2 linked regions of the Homo sapiens genome follow. Changing the gene in region 1 together with any one later gene gives a genetic interaction. Each region holds a gene or a part of one and is shown on either strand. Other genes may lie near its edges.

Region 1 (5,953 bases):
CTAAAAATACAAAAAATTAGCTGGACATGGTGGTGCGCGCCTGTAGTCCCAGCTACTCGGAAGGGTGAGGCAGGAAATTTGCTGGAGCCTGGGAGGTGGAGGTTGCAGTGAGCCAAGATGGCCCCACTGCACTCCAGCCTGGGTGACAGAGCGAGACTCAGTTTCAAAAAAAAAAAAAAAAATTAGTAATATATGCAATATTATTTTCACACTTGCATCACATATTAAATCAGACTAGCCGTATTACAAGTGCTCAGTAGTCACAACACACAGCTCTAAAGATGAGCCCCATCTCTCTCTTTTCAAAAATTGTTTTAAACTTGTCATTTTACTTGATTTTTGGCTGCAGTGAAAGAATTTCAAAGAGTCTTACCAAATGGCGGAAAGTAATATCTTTCAATGAAGGTATGGTGGGCCAAAACAAAGACGTAAAGGAGAGATTTGAGTTAAGATTACTTATTGAAAAATCTTCCCACGTTTCAGTTTATTCATTTAAAACAAACTTTTATTTTTTAACTTGAACACTGTCACATACATCCATGAAAGTTAGATGTCACTGGATATCACTTTTGATGTAACGAACTTTGGAATGATATGTGTTACAATTCCCACAGGCATCTGGAGAAAAAGATAAAAACAATGAACAACAGAGTCTTCTTTCTTTTCCTCCCGACTGTGGGATGAAATGAGAGATGATAAACAATAGTACAACATTAACCAGCACCAGTGACTTTCTAAATAGAAGAAAATGGCCAGCTCTGTGTATATCTGCAACATTTGTGTGCTATATCTTAAACAAGTAGAGAAGCCCATCTTTTCCTTTTGTAACTCACGAGCTTGGATATCAGGGTGCTTGTGGAACTGAAGGTTTCAGTCAAATGATCACACCAACCTTGTCTGCCTAGCACTAGAAAAGCTTGTTGCTTTTGTTTTTACATGAGGGGCCATTCTGGGATTTAAATAAATCTCTCAAGCTTCAACAGCCTGTGCTGGTTCCACAAATAATACTCCCTTACCCTCCCAGACCCTTGGTTTCCGTATCTACCATGTGGGAAAGAAGCCGTTACGAAATATACGGCTGTGAAAATGCAAAATAAATAAATAAATAAGAAAGAAAGAAAAATGTTAACCATTTAAATACACTCAAAGATGGATATACCTTAAGACTTCATTACCAATTCAGTGATAAACACACATTCTTTTCATCTGACTGTGACATAAAATACCAAAATATATAGCCAAATAAATATCTAGGTATTAATCATTCATTGTGGTCCTACTTGAAATTCTTAGCTTTTTGCTATTTTTAAGTAGTCACTTTGTAAAAGGCATTGAGTTGTCTCCTAGTTACTACGGGAGCCTGCATTTCTGTGGTCAAGTAACGAAGGCCCAACTAATGCGTGGCCCAGCCAAGTTAGCGGCTGTGTCTGGCAACTGTTTTCTACACAAATATTGGTCCTGGTAGTAGGTCTGATACATCTGCCACTTGTTAGTAGTCTTGCAGCTAGAGGACAAAAGACCTCAACATGAACAAATGAGTAGCCAAGAAGTATATTTCAGAACACACTGCAGTTCATATTACTAGGTACATGAATATTCTCGTAACATTTTAAGTAAGTTAAATTGAATTTTTAAACTAATTTTAAACTTTTTCTTACTTAACTTACTGAGAATTTTTGTTGTTGTTCAATAAAACTGTCTGCAACAGGTAAATGCCAGGAATAGTTGAGTGATTCTCAAAGCTATACACAGATACCTGGATTTTCTTGGCTTCACCTCTGCTGCGTCTAGGTCCCTTTGGAGTTCTTCACCTTGTTTTCTGCATCCTTCTCTTTTTCTTGTTCTTTCTCTTCCTCGCCTGCAGCATCTTGGGCCTCTTCATCCCACTTTTCGGGCTGAGATTTAGTGACTTCTTTAGGGAAGAATAATACACACATGGGGACCAGACATTCACAGAAAATATAGCCCAATTTATAACTAGCAGCGGCATTCAGCTACTCCACCCTCAGGAGAAGCAGGATAGAGTTAAGTAAGAAAGGAATAGCTGGGCACCTTCCTACTGGTTTTCACAACAGTTCCATGGCCCTCACGTTGCTGCTGCTTGATCATTTCCACAGGGACACTGTATTTCCCTTTTTTCCAGTAAATCTCCCACCCAAAGCGGCTGATTATTTCTAGTTCTTTGGAGAAGAAGAGATCTGAATCATCGGGTCCGATCTCATTCTACGGTGTTTTGGTCAGAACTTTGTTGGGAAAATATTTGTTTACCTCAAAAGACAAATTCTATGGTGAAGCTCATTGGTTCCTCACCCCCCTGAATGCTTCATTTTTACCAAGTGCTCCTGCATCACTTCATCATTTGGGGGATCAACTTTCTACGAATCTTTACACTTTGAAAAGCCATGAACTAAAAGGGATGCCTGCCATTTGCCTGTTCTTTTCCTTGGCGCATCCCTTCTGTTTCCTGCGGAGCTCCCTCCTGAACCCCTATCTACCCGGCCATTCATCTGCGGGCTCACAAATGGCACCGATGATCTCAGATCTCCTATCAAATATAGGTTGGTAGAGGGCGACAAGTTTTCTCAAAACCACAGATGTCGTTAGAGAATTGGGCTTCGACTCATTGGGACACATTCTGCCTTAAGTTTCAGGAGGGCCCCGACTCCTGCTTCACCACCCGAGGCCCCGACCCCCCTTCACCACCCGCTTCACCAGCTATGCCCGCACCGCGGCCCTGCCTAGAACCCTGGGACACACGGGTCCCCGCCTCCCCGCTGCTGCCGCTAGCCCGTTCCTTACCCTCTGGGGCCGTGGCCTCCTGTGCGGTCGGTTCTTCTGTGGCTGGTTCCTCTGCGTCTGGTTCCTCTGTGGCCTCCTCTGAGAGCTTCTCCTCTGCGGCCTCCTCCGCGGGCTCCCTGGCCATCTCGGCCAGGTCAGCTGGCACTGCAGGCTCTGGGACCGATGCGGCCTCCTGGATCAGGCCCAGGCCCTCGCCCGCCCGGGCTGCGGCCCCTGCACCCAGCCTCTGGGGCAGCAGCAGCGGGGGGAGGTTGCCCCAGAGGTTGCGCGCAGCAGCGTGTGGCCCCACCATCAGGCGGCTGAGTTGACGGTTCTCTATGAGGATGTGGTCGTTGTGAGAGAGGCGGTGGAGAAGGGAGTGGACCATGTCCAGGAGCACGAAGTGAATGCCCGACGCCGGGTAGCGACGGGCGACCACCGCCAAGTCGAAGTTGGCCGCCTCGTTCCCCTCTTCCTCCTCCTCTTCCTCCGTCGCGGGCCCGATATCTGAGTCCTCCTCGGCGCTCCCGCCCCGGGGGACTGCGGCCAGGCCTGCCGCCTGCTCACCCTCCTCCTCCCCGAGGCCTTCCACGGGCCCTGCGACTCCGACCACCTCGGCCGCAGGCACCACGTCGCTGCTGTCGGGGCCGGAGTCGCCGCCCTCCTGGTTACCAGCTCCGGCCGCCTCGGCCTGTGCTCCCTCCTGGCTTACCGGGGCCTCCTGGTCCCCTTGGGTCGGGTGTCGGTCCCCTGTGGCAGACATGACACCAGCAGCGCCTCAACTGGGGTGGCGAGCGGGCTGAGGCGACCACGGTGAAGACGGTGACCACTGAGGTGGCTACGGCCGAGGGGAGGCGAGGAGCTGGCCGCTGAGGGAATAAGAGTCTCTCTCTTTATTGAGGGAATAAGAGTCTGTCTCAGACGACACCCTAAGATGGGAAGGGCAGGGAGCGAATCCTAGAAACCTCCCACCAAGGCTGGCCTGAGAGGACTTAGACAAGTTGGGAAAGATTCTGGTTGGCAGGCGAAAGGGGGCGGGACCGGAAGGGTCAACGAGGGGCTCTCAGTGAGCCCTAAGCTCATTTGCTGAAAACTTCAGATTGACATGTTCTATGTCCAATGAATGATCAAGGCCCTTAAGCTCTAGAACTGAGAATCCAGAATCCAGAGCTTTTTCTTTTCTTTTCATAGTGTTGCTCTGTTGCCCAGGCTGGAGTGCAGTGGCAAGATCTCGGCTCACTGCAATCCCCGCCTCCTGGGTTCCAGTGATTCTCCTGCCTCAGCCTCCTGAGTAGCTGGGACTACAGGTACATGCCACCACGCCTGGCTAGGTTTTGTATTTTTAGTAGAGACAGGGTTTCACCATGTTGGCCAGGATGGTCTCGATCTCCTGACCTTGTGATCCACCTGCCTCAGCCTCCCAAAGTGCTTGGATTACAGGCATGAGCCACCGTGCCAGGCCGAGCTCTACCTTTTCTATGAGGCCTTAGTGTCCAAGGCTACCCCTTTAGGTCCACACAAGTCCTGCCCTTTTAATTTTATGATTATTAGCAACACTATAGTAGTCCCATGTGGAGGCACCCTGGAGCATGGGAACTGCAAGGCGGTCACAGAGTTCACTTATTTCCACCTAGTAATGGCTCATGCCAGTAGAGATAGTGTCATAAAAATGTTATATAGTTCATAGCTAAGCAGTAGTGAAAACCTCCCAAGAGACATAAGAATTTCACTGAGTTAACGTAGTTAAAGCTACTTAGAAAAGAATGTGCAGAGTTGAAATGGATGCAGTCATCACTGAGTGTTGAGGTGGTAAATGACAGACACTGGAAGGTGTTTAATGAATCCTGCCAAATTCACTTCAAACCTCCAAATAATGGGGAAAAAAAGAGATACTTTTTTTAAAAGGACCAGGTCATCTCATAAGAGCTAAGCATCAAAAACACCAAAAGTGCCTGGGGGTGGTGGCTCACGCCTGTAATCCAGCACTTTGGGAGGCCGCACTTTGGGAGGCCGAGGCAGGCAGATCACCTGAGGTCAGTAGTTCGAGACCAGCATGACCAATATGGTAAAACCCTGTCTGTACTAAAAATACAAAAAATTAGCTGGACATGGTGGTGCGCGCCTGTAGTCCCAGCTACTCGGAAGGGTGAGGCAGGAAATTTGCTGGAGCCTGGGAGGTGGAGGTTGCAGTGAGCCAAGATGGCCCCACTGCACTCCAGCCTGGGTGACAGAGCGAGACTCAGTTTCAAAAAAAAAAAAAAAAAATTAGTAATATATGCAATATTATTTTCACACTTGCATCACATATTAAATCAGACTAGCCGTATTACAAGTGCTCAGTAGTCACAACACACAGCTCTAAAGATGAGCCCCATCTCTCTCTTTTCAAAAATTGTTTTAAACTTGTCATTTTACTTGATTTTTGGCTGCAGTGAAAGAATTTCAAAGAGTCTTACCAAATGGCGGAAAGTAATATCTTTCAATGAAGGTATGGTGGGCCAAAACAAAGACGTAAAGGAGAGATTTGAGTTAAGATTACTTATTGAAAAATCTTCCCACGTTTCAGTTTATTCATTTAAAACAAACTTTTATTTTTTAACTTGAACACTGTCACATACATCCATGAAAGTTAGATGTCACTGGATATCACTTTTGATGTAACGAACTTTGGAATGATATGTGTTACAATTCCCACAGGCATCTGGAGAAAAAGATAAAAACAATGAACAACAGAGTCTTCTTTCTTTTCCTCCCGACTGTGGGATGAAATGAGAGATGATAAACAATAGTACAACATTAACCAGCACCAGTGACTTTCTAAATAGAAGAAAATGGCCAGCTCTGTGTATATCTGCAACATTTGTGTGCTATATCTTAAACAAGTAGAGAAGCCCATCTTTTCCTTTTGTAACTCACGAGCTTGGATATCAGGGTGCTTGTGGAACTGAAGGTTTCAGTCAAATGATCACACCAACCTTGTCTGCCTAGCACTAGAAAAGCTTGTTGCTTTTGTTTTTACATGAGGGGCCATTCTGGGATTTAAATAAATCTCTCAAGCTTCAACAGCCTGTGCTGGTTCCACAAATAATACTCCCTTACCCTCCCAGACCCTTGGTTTCCGTATCTACCATGTGGGAAAGAAGCCGTTACGAAATATACGGCTGTGAAAATGCAA
Region 2 (3,500 bases), on another chromosome or scaffold:
TATTTTATTTTTTTAATTTTATTTATTTATTTTTTGAGACGGAGTTTCGCTCTTGTTGCCCAGGCTGGAGTGCAATGGCGTGATCTTGGCTCACCACAACCTTTGCCTCCCAGGTTCAAGAGATTCTCCTGCCTCAGCCTCCAGAGTAGCTGGTATTTTAGGTGCCTGCCACCACACCCAGTTAATTTTTTGTATTTTTAGTAGAGATGGGGTTTCACCATGTTGGCCAGGCTGGTCTCAAACTCCTGACCTCAAGTGATCTGTCCACCTTGGCCTCCCGAAATGCTGGGATTACAGGCGTGAGCCACTTCACCCGGCCCTATACTGGCCATTTTTTAACTTTAAGAAGCCAAAGTTTCCTGTTTAAATGAGCATAAATTAAATTTTACATACAGCTTGATGTCAACTACATTAGAAAAAGGCCAAAAGGAAATTATGAGAATAGCAGCTACCATGGATGTGTCATACCTTTCCCCCTGTGAATCGCAAAGCACCCATTCCACGATCGGCTCTGGAACGCTCTCAGATATGCAGACCAGGGCGTCCTGGTTTTCCATTTTTCTAAAGTAAGGTCTTCTTAATGTGTAAAGCAGGGTATCTAAAGCATCATAAGTTATTAACATTTTACTATTTTAAAAATAATTCTCTTAGCAGCCCCTCAGAAAAGGATTCTATGTCATTATGAAAAGTTCTCAACCATTACGTATACATATTTTTTTCTTTTTTCATAATAAAGGCATCAAAAGCAAACCAACCATTATATTAAATTTAGCTGTGGCTGCAGTGTCAACTTGAACATTTCTCCTCTTGGCCAATTTCTTTGGGTATTTCACAAATCCACAGCTAACTAAAGTAGTCGAGTGAAGCCATGTGAAAATACAAATATTGATAGGCACAGGAAAAAGGAAATTAGCAATAACATATGGCTTAAACCCTTGTTTAACACATAGTTTAGACCTCAACTTTCTTCCTATAATTTGATCTGCAACTAGGCAGAAATATACTAAGATTTAGAAAGACAGAAGAAACATGGTAGGGTGGAGTTGGAATTGCAACAGAACTTAAGAGGTTTAGTTGAGCCTCCCACTCACCCTGGATCACACACACACACACACACACACCATCCTTCACTCCCAGCTATTTCTAACATAAACTTTCTACTTCTACTTTGACTCTTCTAGAGACTGGAGTTCATGACCTCCCAGGGCAGGTCATTCTAATTTCTGACAAACTTTTTTTTTTTTAAAGAAAGTTTCCCTATACTGAATTCCAGCCTCTCTCCTTACAATAAATTTTGTTTGAAAATACTATGTACTGTTTGATATATATATATATATATGAAAGAATATATGGAGTGTAAATTTCAAAGCATAACAACAACAAATACCCACGGAGCCACTATCCACCTAATAACTAGAATATTAATAAATACCTTTTGATCTACTTTTATGCTTCTCCCCACCTCTCAACTGCACGTATCCTTTATCCTGAATTTTGTTGATTATTCGAGGACTCTTCAAAGTAGTTATACCAAATAAATATGTGGCACTAAACAATATATTGATTTTTTCATTCTTGAGCTTCAAAATAGTGTTATCAATCAATATGTAACTTCTACAACTTCATTTTTTCATCCAACCTTATGTTTTTAAAATTCATCCATGGTTTTACATGTAGCTATACTTTATTCATTTTTTTTTTTACTGCTACATAATATTCTATTGGTAAATATATCATTATTTTTTCATTTTCTTGCAGTAGACATTTGGGTTGTTTCCTTCCGTGTGTGTGTGTGAGACAGGGTCTCTGTCACCCAGGCTGGAGTGCAGTGGTGCAATCTCAGCTCACTACAGCCTCAACCTCCCAGGCTCAAGTGATCTTCCTGCCTTGGCCTCCCAAAGTGCTTGGATTACAGGTATGAGCCACCACACCCGGCCACAGTTTTTTGTATGATCAACCATGTGCTCTGAACATTCTACACATTTGTACTGAGGCATGTGTATAACAGTTTCCTTAATAACATTCTTAAGAGTGGAACTGCTGGTCTACATGGTATGAGCACATTCAGCCTTACACATAATGATCATTTGTTTTCCAAAGTGGTTATACTAATTTATGTTACACAGCAGGATATGAGAGCACCTATTGCTTTATAGACTTACCAAGACTTCTTAATTTTCAGCAATCCAGCAAGTATAAAATGGTATTTCATTGTGGTCTTAATTTAATTTCTCCATTATTAATTTAACATGTGTTAAAATAATTAATTGGGAGTCCATTAGGCTGAGACAACTCTAACAGCTTGAGTTCCTAGGTAAACAAATCACAACACAACTCAAAAAAAAAAAAAGGAAAAGAATAAAGGCCGGGCAAGGTGGCTCACGCCTGTAATCCCAGCACTTAGGGAGGGTGAGGCGGGAGGATCGCTTGAGCCCAGGAGTTCGAGACCAGCCTAGGTAACATGCCAAAACCCCGTCTCTACAAAAACAACAACAACAAAAAGCAAAAAACAAACCCAATTCAATATGAGCAGCAAAATGCAACTTAGCTTAATCAATGAGGAACTGCAAACTGACCAATCCAGGGACTGTCCTTCTTTAAACAATCAAATTTTTTCTTTGTCTTGCTTCCGGGAACACATTATAGAAAGAAGTCTTACCCTTGAATCTCCTCACTGGAGCCCACCTGCTTGCCATCTGGTACTGCCTGATTCATGAATTGCTTTCTGCTCAAATATACTCTTTACAACTTTAAAGTGCCTAAGTTTATCTTTTAACATGTTTCTTGACCATTTAGGTTTCATGTTCCAAAAATGAAATGCCTACTCATGTCCTTTGTTCATTGCTCTACTAGGTTTTCATTTTGTTCGTTTTTCTTATTGACTTATTGACTTATATAGATTGTTTATCTTATTGACTTTACATATTATGACTATTAATCCTTTGTTGATTGTGAACTGCAAGTATTTTTTCCCATCTTGAGGTGATTTTTACTTTTTCTCCCTGTAATTTCTAACAATTGGTTCTTATCATATCCTCTAGAGCAACTTTTTTAAAGTCTAGCTTTGATTCCATATGAAAATCTTTCAAATATTTAAAATCAGAAACCGAGATCAAGGGAGATAATTACCATACAAGGTACTTTAACTAGTTAGCTCAGGTTTCCTGACTCAAATCCCAAAAGAATTTCCTCTGCATTACACTGCAATCAATCTTATCGTCTCCTCAAAACATTTCCTTCTATATACTACACATTCCCAATTCCTTCAACTGCTCCTAATTTAAAGAATTCCAAGTTTTCCACTATCCTGGTTGCTCATTTTGTCAGTATTCATCTTTAAAAAAGTAGAACTGAAATGAATAAGCTTCTATTAATTTCCTTAATTTAGACGTTATATTTTCATGAACACTGCCAAGGTTCAAATTTACTTTTTTGGCAACCATGCCACGCTGGTGGTTAATACTGAGCTTGTGGTTGACTAAACCCTTTCCTCTTTTTCA

What was found. Genes that interact genetically often act in the same process or in processes that back each other up.
Region 2: changes in CT47A6 (region 1) and FLT3 together harm fitness less than expected from each alone (positive genetic interaction), as found in Homo sapiens cells (one study listed by BioGRID).

What each region holds. Positions count from the first base shown.
Region 1 is NC_000023.11:120,957,688-120,963,640, forward strand, and holds CT47A6 (cancer/testis antigen 47A), read right to left. Parts: upstream 3,801-5,953; 5' UTR 3,542-3,800; coding exon 2,800-3,541; intron 1,913-2,799; coding exon 1,788-1,912; 3' UTR 1,757-1,787; intron 619-1,756; 3' UTR 478-618; downstream 1-477.
Region 2 is NC_000013.11:28,052,077-28,055,576, forward strand, and holds part of FLT3 (receptor-type tyrosine-protein kinase FLT3 precursor), read right to left. Parts: intron 848-3,500; exon of another isoform or gene 756-847; intron 599-755; coding exon 469-598; intron 1-468. UniProt on the Homo sapiens protein: Tyrosine-protein kinase that acts as a cell-surface receptor for the cytokine FLT3LG and regulates differentiation, proliferation and survival of hematopoietic progenitor cells and of dendritic cells.